Linked DNA regions of Homo sapiens. The protein of the gene in region 1 purifies or fractionates together with the protein of each later gene. This does not show direct contact. Each region holds a gene or a part of one and is shown in the gene's direction. Other genes may lie near its edges. The genes, in order: LIMCH1, RFC2, FGL1 and CUTC.

Region 1 (3,571 bases):
GACCTGGCTCGTTGGAAGAGTCGTAGAAGAAGTGTTTCTCAGGACTTAATCAAGAAAGAGGAAGAAAGGAAAAAAATGGAGAAGTTACTGGCTGGAGAAGATGGGACAAGTGAACGAAGGAAAAGCATCAAAACCTACAGAGAAATTGTTCAAGAAAAGTGAGTTCTTTCTGTTGTCGTTTTTAATGTACAATATTATCTAGGTGTTTTTTTTTTCTAAAAATTATTGGCTGTCACAAAGGTTCTGATAGTAACATTTTATATTCCCTGTACTATCTCTTCAGTGCTACCTTCGTTTCTACCAAGGTCTTCTTTGCAATTTTCATTAGTTGACTTTGTTATTGCTTCTCCCATGTCCTTTAGAGAGCGGAGAGAGAGAGAGCTGCATGAAGCATATAAGAACGCTCGGTCCCAGGAGGAGGCAGAGGGGATCCTTCAACAGTACATTGAGAGGTTCACCATCAGTGAGGCTGTTCTCGAACGCTTGGAGATGCCAAAAATTCTGGAAAGAAGCCATTCAACAGAGCCAAATTTATCCTCCTTCCTGAATGACCCCAATCCCATGAAATACCTGCGGCAACAGTCACTGCCTCCACCCAAATTCACTGCCACTGTTGAAACCACCATTGCTCGTGCCAGTGTTCTGGATACCAGCATGTCAGCAGGCAGTGGGTCTCCAAGCAAAACTGTCACTCCCAAAGCAGTGCCTATGCTGACACCCAAGCCTTACTCCCAGCCCAAAAATTCTCAAGATGTTCTGAAGACCTTTAAGGTAGGACAAGTTCCTTAAGAGTAGAACCAAAGCTGAACTCCAGGGAGTGGATGGAAAGAAGCATCATGACTCAAGAAAATGTCATTCTTTTTACCATACAAAAGAAAAATGTGTTGACATTTACAGCTGTGAAAGTCATAGGTCTCTGGAGATTTGGTTTGTAAATGCTTCAGGGACAGCTGTTTCCCTCAATTGCTGTTGTTAATACAGATGGACTCCTATAAGACTGATAGTGGAGTCGTCTCCATGAGCAAGGTCTATTTTCTAGTTTGATATAATGGCATGATTTCTCTGTACTAGTGGTAAAAACCCTAATTTAGTAATACCCTAGTATTTCTAGGTATCAGGAGGTATGGCAGACTCCTCAAAACAAAATTTTATTTGCTTTTGGTTCAAATAGAAGTATATGCAGCTACCTCTCTTTTAGGAAGAAATTGGCATTCAGCATCCATTTGACATTGTAGCATCCAAAAAGATTTTACAATTGATAAAAATACAAGGAACACATGGGAACATGGGACATACTTGGTCCTCAAATGAGACAGGTTTTTTAAACAAGTGGAAAGAAACTGGGTTGTTTTGCTAATGAGTGTGTAAAATAGTGTTCCAGACTGAAGAACTTGTGGAAACCAAACATCTTTTCGCTTCCTCAAATTCAAGTACTTTCTCTTATATCAGGAGGAAGCACTCATCCTTTGTCTTAAGTTCTTTTGACTTGTAAAGAAAAATCAGTTCCCCTTGTCCTTGCACTCAATGAGTTTGTAATAAACAGAGGTGGAATGCATCACTTGGAGATGTGACCATTAGATAGAAAAGTTTTCGTAACTGATTGAGCAGTGTGATGCCACGTAGCTTCCTTGCTGTATTTCAAAGAGAACAAAACCACACTTTCTGACTTTTGCTGAAATAACTCTGAATGTATCTCAAAAATCTCTATCTTAGGCTTTGATAGAACAAAAATGTCCAGACTGTCTCATCTGGATCACATTGAGCTGTTTGTCCCCTTATAAGGGCAGGGGCCATGTCTCTGTCATTCATGGCTTCATCCTGAGAGCCTGGCACAGGTGCCCAGGACAGAGTAGGCACTCAGCAAGTGCTCCTTAAATAAATAAGTGAATTTTTCCTGAGAAGATGAGCTACTAATCATATGGACTCACACACACACAGATAGACACACACATGCTCATGTGTGCTCAGTGGTCCACCTAAGTGTTTCAGAAGCTTTCCTTCACCTAGGGCCTATGATAATGAATGGCTATGGTATTTCCTGAAGGAAGATTCTATGTTGAGGTGGCCCAGAATAGGATAGAGAATACATTTATTTAACTGGATTTCCAAGGCATCTGACCAAACATTCTAGATGTCCACTTTCCCTCCTTTATCTAAATAGTGCAAAGTGATCGTTTAAACAGAAGGATTAGCATAAATGATTTTATGGCAGAACTTCAGCTCTGAGAAAACTCTGTTCTTCACCATGGCGGCAAAGTGGAGCAAGGTGGTATGGCGGCCTCAGGAAGCACTTCCATGGAGGGGGTTATTAGAGAATTTGAGCAGAGGCCCTCTTAGAGCTGGAGATTACTCCTCATCACTCACTAGTGGGGGTCCCCTGCCTCATTGTAGGCCTCACTGGCTAGTATTTCTACTGATGGCCTACAGTTCCATTACTGAGTGCATGGACAGCAACTTTGGTCAAAGGTCAAAGTAACATGCAAATCAGACCGTTGTTACCAGCTAATAATGCCAGGACAGAAGCTAAGGGGTAGGGGTGTGTGTGTGTGTGTGTGTGTGTGTGTGTGTGTGTGTGTGTCTTCTTGGAGGGCAGGGCAGGGAATACAGGCCCCGTTGTTTTTCCAGTACAACAGAATTAAGAATAAAGGAAGATCAAGAGAAATAGTTTAAGGCAGTGTTTTTCAAACTGAAAGTTACCACCCGTTGCTAGGTTATAAAATCAGTTTAGTGGTTTGAAGCCAATATAAAAAAAAAAGAACTAGAATAGAATATAATAAAAAAACATAGTGTGTCACACAATGAAGGCAAAATTGCTTGGGGCAACTTCTGTTTCAGTTATATTTATGTGTGTGTGTGTGTGCTGAGTTGTGATTTAAATTTCTTTTTATGGGTAACAAATAATAGAGTAAAAAGACCAGTGGCTTAAGGTAAATAAACTATAACTAATATCCAGCCTTCCATTATTTCTTTTAAAAGATTTTAAAAGGCCTAATGAGGCTGGGCGAGGTGGCTCACACCTGTAATGCCAGCACTTTGGGAGGCCGAGGCAGGCAGATCACTTGAGACCAGGAGTTCGAGACCAGTCTGGACAACATGATGAAACCCTGTCTCTACTAAAAATACAAAAATTAACCAGCCATGTTGGCATACGCCTGTAATCCCATCTACTTGGGAGGCTGAGGCATGAGAATTGCTTGAACCAGGAAGGTGGAGGCTGCAGTGAGCTGAGATTACACCACTCCACTCCAGCCTGGGTGACAGAGTGAGACCCCGTCTCAAAAAATAAATAAATACATAAATAAGAGGCCTAATGATAATAATGGCTAATAGTTAAGCACTTAAAATGTGTCAGGTACTGTTCTAAATTCTGTACATTTGATAATCCATAAAATCTCCATAACAGCACTATGAGGAAGATACTGTTACTTTAAATTTTGCATCAGAGCACAGAGAATAGGAAACCTGTTGAAGATTCCATGCCTGTTAAATGGTAGAGCCAGGTTTCAATCAGGTCACCTAACTGCACAGCTCCCTCTCAAAACCACTCTACTTTCTGCCTCAAATTTCAAGA
Region 2 (3,571 bases), on another chromosome or scaffold:
CTTGAGCAAAAGTGAATTTTGGTGTCTGAGGAAGGGCCTAGCACCAGTCCCCAGGAACACCAAGGGACAGCTGCATATTGTTCACTCCTTGATTCTTCAGTTAGGGAAAATGTCTGGAGGATATTGGCATCTGAAGATTCATAGTCTGAGATTTTGCTTATTGATCAATTTCACCATCAGTAGCATTTAGAATGTTGCTATTGGTGTCTCTGCAGTTCTGTACTGTTCTGTTCTGTTCTTTTCTTTCTTTCTTTTTTTTTGAGACAGAGTCTTGCTCTGTCACCCAGGCTGGAGTGCAGTGGCACGATCTCGACTCACCATAACCTCTGCCTTCTGGGTTCAAGCGATTCTCGTGCCTCAGCCTCCCAAGTAGCCGGGACTACAGGCGTGCGCGGGCACGCCCAGGTAATTTTTGTATTTTTAGTAAAGATGGATTTTCGCCGTGTTGGCCAGGTTGATCTTAAACTGGCCTGGAGTGGTCCGCCCACCTTGGCCTCCTAAAGTGTTGGGATTACAGGTGTGAGCCACCATGCTTGGCCTACATTGCAGTTATTTTCTGATTCACCTAATAATTAGGAAGAGTCCTCCTCTCAATTTTTTTCTCTTTCCTGTTGTGGGTAGAGAATGAAAAATTTTGAATTCTTGGCTGTGGTTAGTGAAAGCTTACAAGATAACAAAGGTGGTATATCTGCACTTCTATTACATCTTTTGAAAGATAATATGGTATCTCAAGCAATGCAGTTAAAAAACTGAAGGATGAGGCTTTTTTTTTTTTTTGAGACGAATTATCGCCAGGCTGGGGTGCAGTGGCGTGATCCCGGCTCACTGAACCTGGGAGGCAGAGCTTGCAGTGAGCCAAGAGGGCCACTGCACTCCAGCCTGGATGACACAGCGAGACCCTGTCTGAAGAAAAAAAAAAAAAAAGTGTATATTTTCTTTGTTCTTTGAAAGACCTCCAAGAAAGAACAAATGCCATAAAATCTCAATCCTTATAAATAGTTACAATTGCCCCCCAAAAAAACTCAAAAATGGAAATTGGGCCTCACAGTCCCTGATATACCGATTGTTTAAAAGTCCTTGTGAAGGCAACTGAATTGGTCTCAGAAGGTGCCAGTAAAAACCTGTCATTCTTTCAGGGGCATTGACGTTGTGAGGAATAAAATTAAAATGTTTGCTCAACAAAAAGTCACTCTTCCCAAAGGCCGACATAAGATCATCATTCTGGATGAAGCAGACAGGTAGAGTGCTTTGCCAAATGTATTTTGACCTTGATCTCTAAATCTCTTTTTCGGTTTTATTCAATCAGGATAAAAAGCACTTTTATGGTAGATTTGCTTATCATATCTTCCACAAGCAATTTAATAGGGGCCTGCACCTTAAATCTTATCTTTATTAAGTAACTTACAAACATTTGTCTAAGATAGTCATTCATTTAATGTGCTGGTTTCAGCATCTCTTACGTTAATAATTTAAATGAGGGTTTTTGTTTTTTTTTTTTTTTGAGATGGAGTTTCTCTCTGTCACTCAGGCTGGAGTATAGTGGTGTGATCTCTGCTCACTGCAACCTCCGCCTCCCGGGTTCAGGCGGTTCCCTGGCCTCAGCCTCCCAAGTATCTGGGACTACAGGCATCTGCCGCCACACCCGGCTAATTTTTGTATTTGTATTTGTATTTGTATTTGTATTTATTTATTTATTTTTTTTTTGAGACAGAGTCTCGCTCTGTCTCCCAGGCTGGAGTGCAGTGGTGCGATTTCAGCTCACTGCAACCTCCGCCTCCTGGGTTCACGTGATTCTCCTGCCTCAGCCTCCCGAGTAGCTGAGACTACAGGCATGCACCACCACGCCCAGCTGATTTTTTGTATTTTTAGTAGAGAAGGGGTTTCACCATGTTAGCCAGGGTGGTCTCAATCTCCTGACCTCGTGATCCGCCCGCCTCAGCCTCCCAAAGTGCTGGGATTACAGGCATGAGCCACCGAGCCTGGCCTAATTTTTGTATTTTTAGTAGAGATGGGGTTTCGCCATGTTGGCCAGGCTGGTCTCGAACTCCTGACTTCAGGTGATCTACCCGCCTCGGCCTCCCAAAATGCTGGGATTATAGGTGTGAGCCACTGTGCCTGGCCTGTAAATTTTTTTATTGTGGTTAAATGGACATAATTAACCATAAATTTTTTTTTTTTTTTTTTTGTGAGACGGAGTCTTGCTCTGTCGCCCAGGCTGGAGTGCAGTGGCGCAATCTTGGCTCACTGCAAGCTCCACCTTCTGGGTTCACGCCATTCTTCTGCCTCAGCCTCTCGAGTAGCTGGGACTACAGGCGCCCTCCACCACGCCCAGCTAATTTTTTTGTATTTTTAGTAGAGACGGGGTTTCACTGTGTTAGCCAGGATGGTCTTGATCTCCTGGCCTCATGATCCGCCCGCCTCGGCCTCCCAAAGTGCTGGGATTATAGGTGTGAGCCACTGCGCCCGGCCCAAAATTTACCATTTTAACTATTTTGAAGTATACAGTTCAGTGGCATTTAGTACATTTGCAATGTTGTGCAACCATCACAACACTTCGGTTGGTATAAATGAAGAATCTGAGTCCAGGCTCGGTGGCTCATGCCTGTAATCCCAGCACTTTGGGAGGCCGAGGCAGGCGGATCACCTGAGGTCGGGAGATGGAGACCAACATGGAGAAACTTCGTCTCTACTAAAAATACAAAATTAGCCAGGTGTGGTGGCACATACCTGTAATCCCAGCTACTTGGGAGGCTGAGGCAGGAGAATTGCTTGAACCCCGGAGGCGAAGGTTGTGGTGAGCTGAGATCATGCCATTTGCACTGCAACCTGGGCAACAAGAGCGAAACTCCATCTCAAAAAAAAAAAAAAAATTGAAATGACATTAAGAAAAGAATATAGAACCCTAACCCTATAACGTTGTTTTTTGTTGTAGTTTTTGAGACAGGGTCTCACTATATCACTCAGACTAGAGTCCAATGGCACAGTCATAGCTCACTGCAACCTTGAACTCCTCGGCTGTAATGATCCTCCACCTCAGCCTCCCAAGTAGCGGAGACTACAGGCTTGTGCAACTGCAACCAGCTATTTTTTTTTTCACAGGGGCAGGATCTCACTATGTTACCCAGGCTGGTCTCAAACTCCTGGCCTCAAGTGATCTGTCTGCCTCGGCCTCCCAAAGTGCTAGGATTGCAGGCATGAGGTGCTGTGCCTGGCGAAATAAATTTTTTTTAGGGCCAGGTGCGGTGGCTCACACCTGTAATCCCAGCACTTTGGGAGGCCGAGGCGGGCAGATTGCTTGAGGTCAGGAGTTCGAAACCAGCCTGGCCAACGTGGAAACCCCGTCTCTACTAAAAGTATAAAAATTAGCCGGACATGGTGGCGCCCAGGCTGGAATGCAATGGTGCTTGTAATCCCAGGTACTAAGGAGTCCAAGGCAGGAGAATCGCTTGTACCCGGGAGACAGAGGTTGCAGTGAACTGAGATGGTGCCAGTGCACACCAGCCTGGGCAACAGAGCAAGACTCTGTTTCAAAAAAAAAATTTTTTTTTTTTAATGTGGCAGTAATTCATGT
Region 3 (3,571 bases), on another chromosome or scaffold:
AATGAAGTCCAGTTCCTTGATAAAGGAGATGAGAATACTGTCATTGATCTTGGAAGCAAGAGGCAGTATGCAGGTCAGAATGGACTTTTCTTAAGTGTTTCTATAACTTACATTATGCACCCATGTACAGTGATGGTGCTAGTTATTTCAGGCTTTTCCTATTTCAGTAACAAGCAATATGAAGCATTATATCTATTGTAAATGTCTTCTTTCACACTTTACTTTTTTTTTTTTTTTTGAGGCGGAGTCTTGCTCTGTCGCCCAGGCAGGAGTGCAGTGGTGCAATTTTGGCTCACTGCAAGCTCCGTCTACCAGGTTCACACCATTCTCCTGCCTCAGTCTCCCGAGTAGCTGGGACTACAGGTGCCCACCACCAGGCCCGGCTACTTTTTTTGTATTTTTAGTAGAGGCAGGGTTTCACCATGTTAGCCAGGATGGTCTCGATCACCTGACCTTGTGATTCGCCTGCCTCGGCCTCCCAAAGTGCTGGGATTACAGGCGTGAGCCACCGTGCCCAGCCGACACTTTACTTTTTTCTATCTCTGCCAGGGCATTTAATGTGAATGCTAAATATCTGAGAATTTATATCATTTAATAAGAAATCAGGACAATAGATTGTTTAAATACTGATGGACACAGCCAAGTGCGGTGGCTCACGCCTGTAATCCCAGCACGTTGGGAGGCCTAGGTGGGCGGATTACAAGGTCAGGAGATCTAGACCAGCCTGGCCAATATGGTGAAACCCCATCTCTACTAAAAATACAAAAATTAGCTGGGCGTGGTGGCAGGTGCCTGTAGTCCCAGCTACCTGGGAGGCTGAGGCAGGAGAATCACTTGAACCCAGGAGTCGCAGGTTGCAGTGAGCCAAGATCGTGCCACTGCACTCCAGCCTGGGCAACACAATAAGACTCTGTCTCAAAAAAAAAAAAAAAATCCGTGTACACATGGCAGATTACAATTGGGAATTTTTGCATTTGAGCTTTGTGTTTGTGTATCTTTCCTTGTTGCATGTATGCAGTTTTCCCTTCTGAAATCCTAATGTGCATTAGGGTGGCAAATAAGGTAAAAAATAAAGGAGCAGAAAAAGGAAAAAGAACCAGAATTACTAAGGAAAATAAAAGAGTAGTTTTTTATATGTATATTTTCTGATTTCATAATGTTCCTTTCAATGAGGTATTTCTCCCCAGAAACTAAATGATTTTAAACTGGCAACACATTACACACATTGCTGCACAAATCATTATTCTCTATGGAAAACTGTTCACTTGAATTCCTCCAGAAGTAAAAGGTATCTTTTAGAGTAAACGACGATTGTCAGAAACAAAAAGAATGCTAGCGAAAGCACTTTGTCCATATGTCTATTCTAGCACTACCATGCTACATTGTAATTTCTGTTTATGAGTCTATTGAGGTCAATTAACTGGGCACTCTGTGAGGTCTAGAATGATATTTAATGTACTTTTATCTCCCTGTTGGCTATTAGAGTGCCTGAAACATAGTAGATCCTCATATTCAGGAATGAAAGGAAGGTAGTTCATAGGGAGAGGAATAGCAAGATAAGCAAATATAAATTCGGACACCTATTTGACTAGAATTGAAAGACTGTAGAGGTCAAAGAGTTGCCAATCTTATGGGAATAGAAACATGTTTATTTTCTGCTTCTAATCATACAAGTGTAGGATATAGGAGTTGTGAGAGTCTATGCTTCCATAAAATGCTTCAGGGCACCTGGCTGGCTCACACTGTAGCGCATGAGACTCTTAAAATGCTCCCTTTTTTTCTACCAAGATCCTTATCTCCCTCTGCTCAGACTCCTCGCCCTGGGCTCCTGCTTCTCTTATGGCCAGCATCTTGATCCAACTGCCCTCCCTCTGGCCCTTAGAGATCAGAAAGAGGCCAGAGCCAGTGGTCTGCAGTAGTGGGGATGGCTATAGCCTGAAGATGGCCAGTGCCTCTGGAGCCAAGAGGAACCAGGGACAGTTCGGGTAAAAATGGGCTTGGGAAGCAAACGGACTATCGTTTAAGGGATGAGCATACAGATAAGTGATCCCAAAAGAACATACAAAGCTGATCTCAAGGGCGAGGAACTCGTAGATGCCAGTGGATCATCATTACTCCAAATTTCAAACCAAGCCCAAGACTTGGGGTTTCTATTTGAACACATTCTGAGCAGGTTATTGGCACAGACTCAAGGGTCAATCATGGCAGGGGGCAGCTAATCAGATGTTTGTTCCCAGGCCTCTACAACCAGTCATGGGAAGACTGAGGCTTAAGTGCTGTATTAGTCCGTTCTCATACCGCTATAACGAAATGAATGAGGCTGGGTCGTTTATAAAGAAAAGAGGTTTAATTGGCTCATGGTTCTGCAGGCTGTAAAGGAAGCATAGCAGCATCTGCTTCTGGGGAGGCCTCAGGGAACTTACAATCATGGCAGACGGCAAAGCAGAAGCAGGCACATCTCACATGGTGGGAACAGGAGAAAGAGAGGGAGGAGGTGCGACACTGTTTCAAAAACCAGATCTCATGAGAACTCACCACTCACTGTAGAGTACCAAGAGAGATGGTGCTAAAACATTCATGACAACTCCACCCCCATGAGCCAATCGCCTCCCACTAGGCCTTCCCTCCCACACTGGGAACTACAACTCAACATGAGATTTGGTGGGGACACACATCCAAATCATATCAAGAGCTGAAGATCCAGTCCTTGTGTTGACACTGCTGGGGAGCAGACTTTGGGAAGTAAGGGGTCACCAAGGAATAAGGCAAGAAATCAGTTACTTGGAAATTACGATGCCAAGGTCAGAGCAGGATTAACTGTACAAGCAGGAGTTAGAAGAGTCATATAGAGATGCTTCAGAAAAAACATTATAATTATTATAAATATAATACTGTTATAATAATAAGACAGATGATAGGAATTCTAGATGACTGTTTTTTGATATAAAAGCCAAAAAAATCAGAATTCAGTAGATTAAAACAATATTTTTCATATATTAATTACAAGCATGAAGAAGAAAAAGGGGAAATAAAATATAAACACAGTTCAATTGTTCTTTATATTTTAGCATATAGGGAGATAGTACTGGAGAGGCTACTAAGAACAGATACTCAATAAATAAAATATATAACATAAAAATTCCAATAAAGTATAGTGTTTTATATATATATAATATGGTATAAAATATATAAGAACTTGTTCACCTCAAAGTTTATGTTTTTGGTGTCCTTAAATTGAAAACAATTAAATATTCATACATATAATCTGTAGAAATATAAATCTTTTCTTCTTATTTACAAGTTACTTTATTATTACTAAATTAGTTATTTTCTGAATTCTAATTTATCTGATGGTAGAAAACACCCAATTACATACAACCTAGCAATTTGTGCAAACAATGCACTAGGCACATGATTTTCTACAGCATACTATTAAGCTGTATCTTTTTTTAAAGAATTTGGGTGCTAGCGGATTATGAATTAAAAGGTTACTGTGTCAAATTCACATTAACTGGTGGCAAGAACAAAAATCTGGCGTCACCACCGCCGTTCACTTGACAACACCACTGGC
Region 4 (3,571 bases), on another chromosome or scaffold:
GACAGGTCTGTGTTTAAACCCTGGCTTTGACCCTTACTAATAGTGACCATGGATACATTACCTAGCCATCCTAAACCTCAGCTTTGCTCTTCTGCAAAGTTAGGATAATAATAGCACCTACCTCCTAGAATAGTTGTGAGGGATTTCTTCAGGTTATAGCACTTAGTAATTGTTCTATATTATTAAATCTGACATTTAGTGACTGCTCTATATTATTAAATCACTTTGATAGCCTTAGATAAGCATATACTTCTAAATAATCTTGTATGGAAGGCGAAAAGAAATGGTAGAATTCATTTCTTTAAAAATATTATTTCTCTATGTTTTGGAAAGCCTTGATTTGGAAGAAACAGGCAAATATGACTTTTTTCCATTCTGAAGTGATTTCAGCTTTTTAGATAGTCAATGTTTTGTTTTATGGATGCTTTGTTCAGGCCATTTGAGAATATGAAGCATCCTTGTTCCATTTATTTCCCTAACAATTTTTAAATTATTTGAAATAGCCACTCCCCTCTTTCACTCTCTTGTTAACTTTATTTTTTGCTTTATTTATTCACTTGCTTTATTTTTTCTTTGTTATACTTATTGCTACCTGGAATTTTATTGTATAAATATCCCTGTGCATTGTCTCGTCTTTCTTGAATGTGTAAGCTCCATGAGAGCAGGAACTTTCTCTTACTCACCATGTCAGGGAGGAAAAACTTTTCTTCTATCCTCAGGGTTTGTTATTGGGGGCCTGCAAATTAAACTGACTAAAGACAGATTAGCAGGAGTAAAAAGAGATTTTATCACATAAGTACATATATATGTAAGTACATACAGAAGTTCACAAAGAAATATGACTTAGAATTGGGGGCTTATATACCATCTTAATAGGTGAAGGGGAAGGAGAAAATGGCACTTATTGGGGGGGAAAATGACTTTTTGGAAAGATAATTTTCTAGAGACAAATTTACTATGCTGGACATCTTACTTGTCCAAGATCCCAAAGAAATAGAGAAGATCTAGTAAAAATTAAACATTAATAGTAATTTTTAAAATTTAATATATTCTGACTTATGTTTCTATTCTCACTGCCTTATTATCCCATTCAAGAGAAAGATATTAAAATTCACTTGTTTTTTTTTTTCTTTTTTCAGGCAAAAGGCAGGATTGTGGTAATGCCAGGTATTTATTTATCTATCAATTCACTAGCATAACACTGAACTATAGTGGAGGAAGAGCAAAGGAGGCAGGAAAATGTGAGAGAGAGTATTAGTACATTACATATTAGTACATGATCTTTAAAGAGAAGAATATATAGTTTGATTAAAATGTTTAAAACTGGGAGATCTGTGCTAGAATTTAAAAGTTTAGATAAGAAGGAAAATATTGTAATAGGCATTAGCTCAAAGAGGAGCAAATAAGGAAGCAGATAGAGATTGAGGTTTCTCCATATTTGCTCTCCCATTATATAGAACTTTATGAATTCAGATGTTCATCTCTGGTGAGGCACATCAAATTTGATGCTAATCATATTTTGTTTAGGACAAATGTCCTAATAAACAGGGTTTAAGCAAAGGTTTAGGCAACATCCTTGGGTAAAATATAATACTGTCTCAGTTCCTGAAAATCTCTGATTGCCAAATTATTTCTTGTAACCAGAATTTAATCATATGATCCTGATGATAACCATAAGATCAGTTAAGTTCATAATGGCTAACTAGAAATGAACAGTTGGAGCAGTTTTTAAAGAATTAGATAATACAACATAGAAGAGTGAGACAAATGTAAAGACAATCTTAATTTTTTTAATTAAGTTTCTCAAACATATAAAAAAGTAGAAAATAGCATAATGAATACTCATATGCTCATTCCCTAGATTTAACATTTTGCCAAATTTGTCTCATCTTTTTTCTATCCTGAGGTATTTTATTAAAGTTAAATTGAAAGCATCATGGCATTTTATCTTTATTTATCTCTAAAAAGGGTGGGATGTTACCATAATGACAATTCCATTATCACATCTATCACAATAAACATTTAATACTCAACTTTCTCCAATTGTCCCCACAATGGTTTTTATAGCTGATATGTTCAAACTAGGATCCAGTCAAGGAACAAGCATTACATTTTTGGTTATCTTTTGTTTGTTTGTTTGTTTTTAGAGATGAGGTCTTGCTATATTGGCCAGGCTGGACTTGAACTCTTAGCCTCAAGCGATCCTCCTGCCTCAGCCACCCAAGTAGCTGGGACTACAGTTGCACGCTGCCATGCCCAGTTCTATTATCTTTTAAAATATCTTTAATATAGATGTTTTTCCTTTTATTTTTCTTGCTTTAAAAAAAAGTTACATTATTAAGTTTGGGCTGGGCCCAGTGGCTCACGCCTGTAATCCCAGCACTTTGGGAGTCTGAGGCAGCCAGATCACCTGAGGTCAAGAGTTCGAGACCAGCCTGGCCAACATGGTGAAATCCTGTCTCTACTAAAAATACAAAAATTAGCCGGCCATGGTGGCATGTGCCTGTAATCCCAGCTACTTGGGAGGCTGAGGCATGAGCATCACTTGAACCAAGGAGGCGGAGGTTGCAGTGTGCTGAGATTGCACCACTGCACTCCAGCCTGGGTGACACAGCAAGACTCCGTCTCAAAATAAAATAAAAGTTTGGATCACTTACCCTGTAAAATGTCCTACTTTCTGGATTTATCAGATTATTTCCTCATGATATTGTTTAGCTTGTTCCTCGTGCCTCTGTATATCCTATAAACTAATAGTTAAATCATGAGGTTTGAATAGACTCTGCTTAAATATTTTTGGTCAGAATACTTCATGGGTGATTCTGCATACTTACATCATATGACATCACATCAGAAGGTATTCAGTCTCTGGTCATCTCACTACTAGTGATGTCAAGACTGACCAGCGTTCAAAATAGTGACACCTAGATAAAGAGTAACTTTTAAAAAGAGGCCGTGAACCTGGGCAATATAGTAAGACACCATCTTTACCAAAACGTAAAAAAATTAGTTGGGCATGGTGGCGTGCTCCTGACGTCCCAGCTACTCTAGAGGCTGAGGTGGGAGGATTTCTTGAGCCCGAGGTCAAGGCTGCAGTGAGCTATGATCGCACCACTGCACTGCAGCCTGGGCAACAGAGTGAGACCCTGTGTCAAAAGAAAAAAAAAAAAAGGCCATATAAGGGGTATTGTCAGATATTTAGGAAGGCTTTGACCTATAACAAGCCCTTGAAACATAAGCAGAGAGAAAGTATATATTATCTGTCAAATTGTGGTCCTTTTTGGTTAATCAAGGAATGTTAAAGAGACTCTGAGTGTGATGCTTTTCCATTTAGCACTAAATATATATAGTTTTGACAAGTAATACTTAGACAATTGTTGACATTAAGAGTACCTTTGTTTAATATGCAATTGTTATCAGCTGTGTGCAAGGCATTACTTGGGATGCAAAGCTACACAAGAAACTACGTTCTCAAGAAGCTGACTCAGGTCAAAAGATGTTACATACAAAAATATTTGTGATTAATTTCTTTAACAAACCTTATCAGGTAAATGTTAATTGTGTGACAATTATG

The links.
Region 2: the proteins of LIMCH1 (region 1) and RFC2 purify together in Homo sapiens (affinity purification with mass spectrometry, with the first as the bait; one large-scale study listed by BioGRID). This does not show direct contact.
Region 3: the proteins of LIMCH1 (region 1) and FGL1 purify together in Homo sapiens (co-immunoprecipitation; one large-scale study listed by IntAct). This does not show direct contact.
Region 4: the proteins of LIMCH1 (region 1) and CUTC fractionate together in Homo sapiens (co-fractionation; one large-scale study listed by BioGRID). This does not show direct contact.

The regions. Positions count from the first base shown.
Region 1 is NC_000004.12:41,646,123-41,649,693, forward strand, and holds part of LIMCH1 (LIM and calponin homology domains-containing protein 1), read left to right. Parts: coding exon 1-158; intron 159-362; coding exon 363-771; intron 772-3,571.
Region 2 is NC_000007.14:74,244,329-74,247,899, reverse strand, and holds part of RFC2 (replication factor C subunit 2), read left to right. Parts: intron 1-1,136; coding exon 1,137-1,238; intron 1,239-3,571.
Region 3 is NC_000008.11:17,878,501-17,882,071, reverse strand, and holds part of FGL1 (fibrinogen-like protein 1 precursor), read left to right. Parts: coding exon 1-73; intron 74-3,571. UniProt on the Homo sapiens protein: Immune suppressive molecule that inhibits antigen-specific T-cell activation by acting as a major ligand of LAG3. Responsible for LAG3 T-cell inhibitory function. Binds LAG3 independently from MHC class II (MHC-II).
Region 4 is NC_000010.11:99,749,230-99,752,800, forward strand, and holds part of CUTC (copper homeostasis protein cutC homolog), read left to right. Parts: intron 1-1,139; coding exon 1,140-1,167; intron 1,168-3,571. UniProt on the Homo sapiens protein: May play a role in copper homeostasis. Can bind one Cu(1+) per subunit.